3 linked regions of the Homo sapiens genome follow. The protein of the gene in region 1 purifies or fractionates together with the protein of each later gene. This does not show direct contact. Each region holds a gene or a part of one and is shown in the gene's direction. Other genes may lie near its edges.

Evidence for each region.
Region 2: the proteins of HAVCR1 (region 1) and DDR2 purify together in Homo sapiens (affinity purification with mass spectrometry, with the first as the bait; one large-scale study listed by BioGRID). This does not show direct contact.
Region 3: the proteins of HAVCR1 (region 1) and TNFRSF10B purify together in Homo sapiens (affinity purification with mass spectrometry, with the first as the bait; one large-scale study listed by BioGRID). This does not show direct contact.

The regions. Positions count from the first base shown.
Region 1 is NC_000005.10:157,034,973-157,038,632, reverse strand, and holds part of HAVCR1 (hepatitis A virus cellular receptor 1 isoform a precursor), read left to right. Parts: intron 1-1,271; coding exon 1,272-1,386; intron 1,387-3,660. UniProt on the Homo sapiens protein: Phosphatidylserine receptor that plays an important functional role in regulatory B-cells homeostasis including generation, expansion and suppressor functions.
Region 2 is NC_000001.11:162,785,146-162,788,026, forward strand, and holds the end of DDR2 (discoidin domain-containing receptor 2 precursor), read left to right. Parts: 3' UTR 1-2,260; downstream 2,261-2,881. UniProt on the Homo sapiens protein: Tyrosine kinase involved in the regulation of tissues remodeling. It functions as a cell surface receptor for fibrillar collagen and regulates cell differentiation, remodeling of the extracellular matrix, cell migration and cell proliferation.
Region 3 is NC_000008.11:23,037,901-23,041,560, reverse strand, and holds part of TNFRSF10B (tumor necrosis factor receptor superfamily member 10B isoform 1 precursor), read left to right. Parts: intron 1-3,660. UniProt on the Homo sapiens protein: Receptor for the cytotoxic ligand TNFSF10/TRAIL. The adapter molecule FADD recruits caspase-8 to the activated receptor.

The DNA.
Region 1 (3,660 bases):
GCAAGCATGGCTCAAATGCTGTTACTCCACTATATTCATAGTGTTTATCAGGAAGGACCTGAAAGTACCCTTGCAAAGAACCCTATTGAATCTACTGTCTATGTCTATTGCTAGACATAGAAATAGATTCAGAGAGGCTAAATAGCTTGTCCATGGTCACATAGTGACTAAGTAGAAGACCTGGGATTCTGACTCCAGGGATTAAGATTTTACAAATGAGAAGATTTGTCCTTCACTCAGATTCTCCCCCTTCCTTCTATTAAAATACCTTCCCGGTGGGCTCTCTTTAGGATTAGAACTAAGCCATGAAATGGGGACCAGCAGGAAGCCAGGCACATTTCAGGCCTATTCCAGGAGGTGATGATCTCTTGTGATAGGCACCAGAAGACTTAAACAATTTTACATTTCTTCATGATTGCATAGCGTTGAATTGTTAATCATGGCCATGTCTGTGTGCAGCTACTCTCAAATCTATTTATTTAGATAGAGACAGAATCTTCTATTACAGGTAAAAAGACAAGTAAGGACTGTAACCAAGGACAAAATTCAATAACTGAGCACATTAAGATAACATCACATCAAGTCAATTTATATAAACAATTTTTTTTTCTTTTTTTCTTTTTTTCGAGATGGAGTCTCACTCTGTTGCCCAGGCTGGAGTGCAATGGCGAAATCTTGGCTCACTGCAACCTCCCGGGTTCAAGCAATTTTTTGCCTCCGCCTCCCAAGTAGCTGGGATTACAGGCGTGCAGCACCACACCCAGCTGATTTTTGTATTTTTAGTAGAGATGGGGTTTCACCATGTTGCCCAGGCTGGTCTCGAACACCTGACCTCAGGATGCCTGGGCTCCCAAAGTGCTGGGATTAGAGATGTGAGCTACCATGCCTGACATTTTTTCTTTTTTAATATCACAAGAGGATGTATTTGTGGAAATAGCCTATTGACTTTTAAAACAGTAAATTAAAAAATTTACATACAAACCCATTTTAAGCATACAGTTTTAGTTTTGACAAATGTGTACACCTATGTAAATACAACCTCAAGCAAGCTAGAAAACACCTCCATCATTGTAAAATATGTTTTGCGTTTCAAGTTGTCCTAGATTTTCACCGTATGGTTATAAACTGAGATCATTTGGTCTTACCCTTATGTTCCAGAAGTCCCCAAGCACCAATACAGGTAAATGTGGCTGGGTAAGTGATTCTGGGAAATGTTTTCTCTTCATAACTTTCTAACAAGATGCTTTTTTGATCTGTTGTTGTTTCCTCAGCAACTGTTCCTAGAACATAGTCTACTGACGGCCAATACCACTAAAGGAATCTATGCTGGAGTCTGTATTTCTGTCTTGGTGCTTCTTGCTCTTTTGGGTGTCATCATTGCCAAAAGTAAGTCATTTCGAGATTGTTCCTAAGGGACAAGGGATGTACAGCAAAATTGCCTGGGTTCACTAGTTTCATAAGTCACATGATTTTGATTTCACACGACTTCCCTTTGTCTCCCCAAATCCTCATTTGTAAAAGTCACATGGTAATACCATCTACCTCAAGGGGGAAGGGAAATGAAGTTTAAATGCATTGGTACCTACAAAGCACTAAGAATGGGAGCTGGGTGTGGGGTCTTATGCCTGTAATCCTAGCTACTTGGGAGGCTGAGTGAGGCAGGAGGATTGCTTGAGCCCAGGAGTTCAAGACTAGCCTGAACAACATGGTGGGACCCCATTTCTTAAAAAAAAACAAAAACAAAACAAAAAAGCAAAACAAAACAAACAAACAAAAAAACCATTAAAAAAAGCACCAGCCAGGAGCAGTGGCTCATGTCTGTAATCCCAGCACTTTGGGAGGCTGAGGCAGGAGGATTGCTTGAGCCCAGGAGTTCAAAACCAGCCTGGGCAACATAGTGAGACATTGTCTCTAAAATAAAAGGAAAAGAACAAAAAGAAAAAGCACTGAGAATGGTTCCTGGCACATGACAAGTGCACAGCAATCTTAAACTGTAATTGTAGTTAGAAAGATCCTTTTGCCATAAATCTCTATAAATCTCATGGAAGTTACATTCTAGTGGAGTTTTCACTTAAAACCACTATTTTTTAAACTTGTTATTTTTCAATTATTATTCCCCTATGGAAAAAATTTAATTCTATAAGAATTTTTTTGAGACAGAGTTTCTCTCTTGTCTCACAGGCTGGAGTGCAATGGCACGATCGTGGCTCACTGCAACCTCCACCTCCTGAGTTCAAGCCATTCTCCTGCCTCAGCCTCCTGAGTAGCTGGGACTACAGGCGCCCGCCACCACGCCCGGCTAATTTTTTGTATTTTTTAGTAGAGATGGGGTTTCACCGTGTTAGTCAGGATGGTCTCGATCTCCTGACCTTGTGATCCGCCTGCCTTGGCCTCCCAAAGTGCTGGGATTACAGGCATGAGCCACCACGCCCGGCCGAATTTTTGTATTTTTAGTAGAGACGGGGTTTTGCCATGTTGGCTAGGCTGGTCTCAAACTCCTAACCTCAGGTGATCCACCTGCCTCGGCCTCCCAAAGTTCTAGGATTACAGGCATGAGCCACAATGCCAGGCCAAGAAAAACTAAATACAGGTGTTCCTCAGTACCCTTGGGGGATTGGTTCCAGAGCCCCTTGATTCCAAAATCTGCAGATGCTCAAGTCCCTTATAAAATGGTGTAGTATTTGCACATAGCCTACTCACTTCCTCCAGTATACTTTAAATCTTCCCTAGATTACTTAGAACACCTAATATACAACGTAAATGCCATGTAAATAGTTGTTATATTGTATTGTTTTTATCTGTATTATTATTGTTGTGTATTATTTTTATTTTTTTTTTAATTTTCAATTTGCGAGTGGTTGAAACTGAGGATGCCAAACCTGTGGACATCGAGGGCCAACTGTATCAAGAAATAGGAGTTTGTTGGGTAGTGTTGCGATCTGGAAGTCAACACACCATTGTGATATATAAGATTTATTTTCTCCACCCTACAAGATCTAATTTTTTTCCCTGTGGGGGTGATATTGTTAAAATTTTGCAACACTCATTTAGCAGAAGAGGCACATGAGACACTGGGAGGGGAAACTGATAGCAAGACACAGACTAAAAAAGTAAAACAAAAGTCTTCAAAAAGCAACCACCCCAGGCTTCATGTCTCCCTTCTGCTAACTGTGTGTGTGTGTGTTTGTCTCAGTATAACCTGCCTCCCATAAAAGAACCCTAGTTAGCTATTTTGCAAGATGTGGTATTTGAAGCCATGACTGATTTAGTTCATGGGTCTAGGCAGAGGAGAATCAGAAAATTAAGAGTATGTTTGGCAAATTTGAGGAAGTTTTTATATAATTATTTTGGAGCTTGCTTAGTCAAAGTTATTTAGAAATTGGGTAAAATACCTTGCAGGGAAGTTCAAACTTTCCCTCTGAAATTTTGATACTTGAGTACGCCAAAAAAAAAATAGATTATTAGGAGATTAACAGGAGAAAATGAATACATATTTATTATGTGTACAGAAGCCACACAAAATATGAGATGGAAGAAAGGGCCAGATGACTGGAGCTTAAATACCCTTTTCTTTCTTTTTTTTTGGAGACAGAGTCTCTTGCTCTGTCACTCAGACTGGAATGCAGTGGTGTGATCTCAGCTCTGTGGGGGAAAAGAAAG
Region 2 (2,881 bases), on another chromosome or scaffold:
CACAAAACACAGTAAGACCTGTTCATAGCTTGTTGTCTAGAAAACCAGGTAGCAGGATATTCTAGATGCTTCCTGCTGCTTCTACGTGAGTAGGATTAGCACTGGGGACAAAATAAGGAGTTTAGAGTAAACCAGTATTTCAGTCAAGAGTTAGTTGGCACTTAGTTAATGGCACTGGAAATAGCTTGTGGAGAGAATAGAATACAATGGTATAGACTCCTAATGTTTGATAAAATACTATTTTCAGAGTGGTAGAGAGGTTTTATTTGCCTAAATAGCCGTTATTAAATGGAATAACAACCACATTAGACCAAATTAATTGCAAACACAGCGGCAACCTGGGGAGAAGTTGAAACTCCAGTTTTGTGGATTACAGTTTTGAGTTTTATGATTGACATTTTTAAGTCCCCTATTTAAGGGGTCAAGATTATAACAATGTGTGTCTTACTAAGTTTCTAGGTCATTGTGAGCACTTGATAAATATTTGCTGAATGTTGTTTTTTTGAATGAACATAAGATAGAAACAAAAACTTCTCATCCAGTTAACTAGAGTGAATGTAGGGAGAATTGTTTTGCTTGTAACATGGAGAGTTTATTTTCAAGTGAGGAAAGAGAAAAAAATTACTCAGACTTGTTCCTGGTGAAGTGCATTCTCTGTTTGTATACTTTTTGATGGAGAAATTGATCTATAGAACTGCTTAATTTTTTGAGGCATTTAGACAGCAATGAAAGGTAGTTCTCCACAGGACACCGAATCAAAAGGAGAGACCAGACTCTGGCCTCATACCCAGCCTATTTGAAACAAGCTATCTAGTTTCTCCTGCAGACACCTTGTCAACAACATGCAACAGTGTCAGGTGCCTTGCAGGAAAATAATCTGAGTCCCAAGCTAGCCTGTGCTCATCCACAATCACAATGAACATGTCAAGGAAGAATTTGCAGAGACTCAAGGGAAGCACAATGGGATAAGGTAATCACTTTCAGTGAAAAACTGTTTTCTTGAAAACAGGCTTGGACACAATTGAAAGCTGGCTTCCTGCAAACACACCAAGAGTCTGTAATCTAGCCTATCCATTATATGTCCTTTATTATTCATGATATCCTATTCTTCTACCTTGTTGCCTGGTAACTTTTTCTGAGGACTGAGTTTCTGCAGCGATGTGGTGCACTCTTCCTGTGATGAGGAAACATCTGGGCCCCCTTCTGCAGGCTTTGGAAGATGATGTGTCTTGTCAAGGGGTAAAGGGCAAATGGATTTAATTTCTGCTTAAAACTATCATAGACGTTCCAAATAGAATATGTAAAATTTCTCTGTATTAGAAAAAGAAACGTGATACCAATTGTATATTTTCTTTTCTTTATTTATTCTCTGTAAGTCTGTCAGATGATAAATTGTAAATAACAATGATTAAAGAGTCATGCTACTGATGGATCTCCCTTTCTGTATAAACAGTGCCAGTTCTGGGCTTTGTAACCTTTGCTCTTTATAGTCTTTCATTCCTGGGGAAGTGATGGGGCATGGGCCCAGAGCTGGGGTGTATGTGGTATGGACACCTGTTTGTGGGGCTTTCCAGCAAAGGATTATTTAAATAGACCTCTAACATATGAGTTGACTGTTTATTGGGAAGAAAGCATCTTGGTCTCTGACATATCCAAACATACGAGACACTGGGATTTTACGTCCTCACATTAATTAGTCCAGTTCTGGGGAATCCAGTCTAGAATTAACTGGTGATCCCTTATCGTTATGGTTACAGACTTGTCTTGTTTGATACACAGAAATCCTTTTTAAATCCAAATATAGTCTGTCTCAGACTACCTGCACATGCACAAACCAAAAAAAACTATGAAAACCAGAATTTAGACTCAGTCATTATACTAGAGATTAGAATGAAACGACCCCAAACAACCCATTTCTTACCTGGTCTCTGAGAATAAGTTTATACTTTTAGTTTTCTGAGAATATTTCTCAGAATATGTGAGTTTTCTGAGCACATTTTTCAGCATGGGGTATGGTAGATAAATCACAGGGCCAAGGTTTGGCAGGGATAGATGGGATCATTGTGTACCCTATTGTTCTTCTGATTTCCAGGAGAACAGAATGAGCCCATGCAAAACATAAACTTATGATGATTAAAAAAAACACACCTATCCATTCACTCATCAATAAAAACATATTATGATGGTTATCAAGCTGTGTCCTATGAGTGATAAAATATTTGTAAAATATAAAATTAAATGGCATCTATTTTGAACTCTATTCTAGTCTCTCTGAGCACCTCTAGCAGTTCAGCCCATCTTTCAAAAGTCATAACACCTTGAAAGCAGCAACTTTAGTGCAGAAAAAGGAAGAAGAGAGCAGTTTCATCACTTGGCTTGAATGAAAATCTTGGGGAAAGGAGAGACAGACGGTCTTGCTCTGAAGCTGTCTGGACTTCACTTAATTCAGTCTGTCTTAGGCTGGCGGTCATCCCGAGACTGCGGTAATGCTGAGCCTCCACAGCCCAGGCCCTCTCCCTTCTTTATAGAAATGATTTTTTTATGGGACAGCCACACAACCAGGTCTTCTTCTTATTCCTTATCACCTCTGAGCTCTAGAACATTTTAAAATGAGTCTTTGGGTCTAGACTCTCACAATTAGGCTTAATTTTACTCCATGACTTTCAGAAAATGTTGTTAAATTGTGGTCTCTTTAGAACAGTTGAAAGTGGGATAAGCGTAGGAGCTGAGTTCCACCCCCATGATAAAGAAATTTTATTGGCCGGGCGCGGTGGCTCATGCCGGTAATCCCAACACTTTGGGAGGCCGAGGCAGGCAGATCACTTGAGCTCAGGAGTTCAAGACCAGCCTGGCCAACACGATGAAACCCCACCTCTACTAA
Region 3 (3,660 bases), on another chromosome or scaffold:
ACATTGATTGATTGATTGATTGACTGATTGAGATAGGATTTCACTCTGTTGCCCAGGCTGGAGTGCGGTGGCAGGATCATAGCTCACTGTAGCCTCAACCACTTGGGCTCAAGCGATCCTCTCACCTCGGCCTTCCAAAGTGTTGGGATTACAGGCGTGAGCCACTGCGCTGGGTCCAAAATTCTAATAAAAATTCCCATATAACGCCGGGCGCAGTGACTCACACCTGTAATCCCAGCACTTCGAGAGGCCAAGGTGGGCAAATCACTTGAGGCCAGGAGTTTGACACCAGCCTGACCAACATGGCGAAACCCTGTTTCTACTAAAAATACAAACATTAGCTGGGTATAGTGGCGTGCCTGTAGTCCCAGCTACTTGGGAGGCTGAGGCAGGAGAATCGCTTGAACCCGGGAGGCAGAGGTTGCAGTGAGCTGAGATCACGCCATTGCACTTCAGCCTGGGTGACAGAGTGAGACCCTGTCTCAAAAAAAAAAAACAACAAAAAAAAAATTATCATATATCTTTGCAGTCATTTTGTGGTTTCCTATTTTGTAATTAAGTCATTGAGCCACATGGACTTCATTTTGTAGTAAGAGGAGAGTGAGGAAGACACATTATTATTTGACAGCCACCTTTTTGGTTGCCCCAACACTATTATTAAATAATCACGTTTTTATCAGTGACATGAATCACTATGATTATGTATGATACTTACATTATTAAGTAAGGTTTGTGTAATTTGGATTTTTTAGAATGTCTTTCAATATTAATAAAAATAATTCAGGAATCTTGTGGCTAGCATATAGGTGATTATGGTCTATTTTTTGCGTTTGTTTTTACTCATTCTGCCACTCTCTGCCTTTTAATTGCAGAGTTTAAACTATTTTCAATTAACATAGTTATTGACAAGAAAAGATTTGTTTCTGCTCTTCAGTTATTTGTTTTCTTTATGTCTTATATATATTTTGTTCCTCCCTTATCACCTTTTGAAAAAACTTTAGTTTATTTCTTGGCATGTACCATTTTCACTCACTTCTTTTCTTTTCTGCATATTTTAAAATATATTTTCTGTTTTTCTTAAATATATATTTTGTGTATATATATTTAATAAATATATATTTTGTATATATATATTTAATAAATATATATTTTGTATATATATTTAATAAATATATATTTTGTATATATATTTATTAAATATATATTTTGTATATATTTAATAAATATATATTTTGTATATATATTTATTAAATATATATTATATATATTTAATAAATATATATTATATATATATTTAATAAATATATATTTAAATATATACTTAGTATATATCTTAAAGATACATATCTTAAATATATATATAGATATATATATATTTTTTGAGACAGGGTCTGCTCTGTCACCCAGGCTGGAGTGCAGTGGTGCGATCTCAGCTCACTGCAGCCTATGGCTGCTGGGTTTAAGCGATTTTCCTGCCTCAGCCTCCTGAGTACAGGGAGTAGCCACCATGCCTGGATAATTTTTGATTTTTAGCAGAGACAGGGTTTTACCATGTTGGTCAGGCTGTCTCAAACTCCTGACCTCAAGTGATCCACCTGCCTCGGCCTCCCAAAGTGTTGGGATTACAGGTATGAGCCACGCACCTAGCCTAAAACTTATTTTCTTACTGGTTTCCTTGAAGATTACAATTACCTTCTTAAGTATCTAAACAGGTAGTTTTATAATACCGGCAGAATTTCATTGCAATCCAAATACTGTGCTCCTGTACCACTCCATCTCTCCAGCTTTCTATTGTTGCTGTCATAGATCACATCCTTGCACGTTGTGTGACCACTGACGTCGATCTTAAGGACATGTATGTGTATGGAGCAAGGTTGACTTGTGATGGTTGATTTTATGTGTCAACTTGGTTACCCAGATACTTGGCCAAATATTATCCTAGATGTTTCTGTGAAGGTGTGTTTGTTGTTGTTGTTTTGTTGTTGGTTTTAGATGGGATTAACATTTAAATCAGTGGGCTTTGAGTCAAGCAGATTACCCCCTTAATGTTGGCAGGTCCCATCTAATCAGTTGAAAGCCTCAATAGAAAAAAGACTGACCTCCACCAAGAAAGAGGGTGTTCTGCCAGCAGGCAGCCTTCAGACCTGAGCTGTGACTCTTCTCTGCTGGCCTATCCTGTACCTTTTGAATTTGCCAGCCTCCACAGTTATGTGAACCAATTCCTTAAGATAAATCTTTATCTCTCTAGAGCAGGGGCCCCTGACCCCCAGGCCATGGACCAGTACTGGTCCGTGGCCTGTTAGGAACCAGGCCACACAGCAGGAGGTGGGCTGTAGATGAGTGAGCATTACTGCCCGAGCTCTGCATGCCGTCAAATCAGCGGCAGCATTAGACTTCATAGGAGCGTGAACCCTATTGTGAACTCCACATTTGAGAGATCTAGGTTGCGCACTCCTTATGAGAATCTAATGCCTGATGATCTGTCACTGTCTCCCATCACCCCCAGATAGGACCATCTAGTTGCAGGAAAATAAACTCAGGGCTTCCACTGATTCTACGTTATAGTGAGTTGTATAATTATTTCATTATATGTTACCATATAATAGTGATAGAAATAAAGTGCACAATAAATGTAACATGCTTGAATCATCCTGAAACCATCCCCATGCCCCCAACTCCAGTCCGTGGAAAAATTGTCTTTCAGGAAACCAGTCCCTGGTGGCAAAAATGTTGGAGACCCCTGCTCTAGAGAGCCCTGACTAATACAGAATTTTTAAAGATTTGAAATTCTTTTAAACCATACTTGATCTCCAAGTAATGGAAATAATAAGATTATATTTCCACCTAACATAATACAGCTATCCTGTATACAACTGAAAACGCACTAACCCTTTCTCCAGAAGAGGATGCAAAGTTCTTGAGTGGTGTTTACTCCTTTCCTTGATACCCTGGAACATAAATACTATAAAGTGAACAATACTTAAATACTATGATATAAATTCAAAATATCTTGTGTTACATAACAAGGGGATAAGAGAAGGAAGAAAACACAGATATTCGCTTAACATATATTTACACATAAACACACACACATAACACAATAAGGAAGAAATACTTATAATGATTACAGTCCTTATTTCCATAGCTGGTCATGTCATTGTAGCTGGTATTTATAAGAAGCTTCTTTCGCTGTGCATTCTGTATTCCCTGTGCCCTCACTAAGCACCTCAGCTGGTCATGGCTCTGTGCCTGGTAGAGTGAACTAACCTTTATTCCTGAAGGGTCTGAGCTATAAGTGGTCCTGCTTTAATAGGGTCGTGGTAGTTTTCCATTGACTTTACTCACAGGGCATGGTAATACTAAGAGATGCCCTAAGGAATCTCCTGTATTCTAGACATCCTCTTCCTTACGTCCATTGTGGAATAACAGTCCAATTTTCCCTTCAATTTCCCCTTTGTGTTCAGAATCAGTCAATCCAGCCAGCAGGGTTTGTGTAACTGGTTTTCGCCTGTTGATTCAGAGGCATGAGGAACCCAAAGTGGCCAAGTGGCAGTCTTCAAGTTACACAGAATCACTGTTGTGTCTCCTCATGGAATCATTCCTCCCTCTGAAACTCAGAGCTCTAGCAAAGCATAAAGCAGCAAAAATTTTGATAACAGG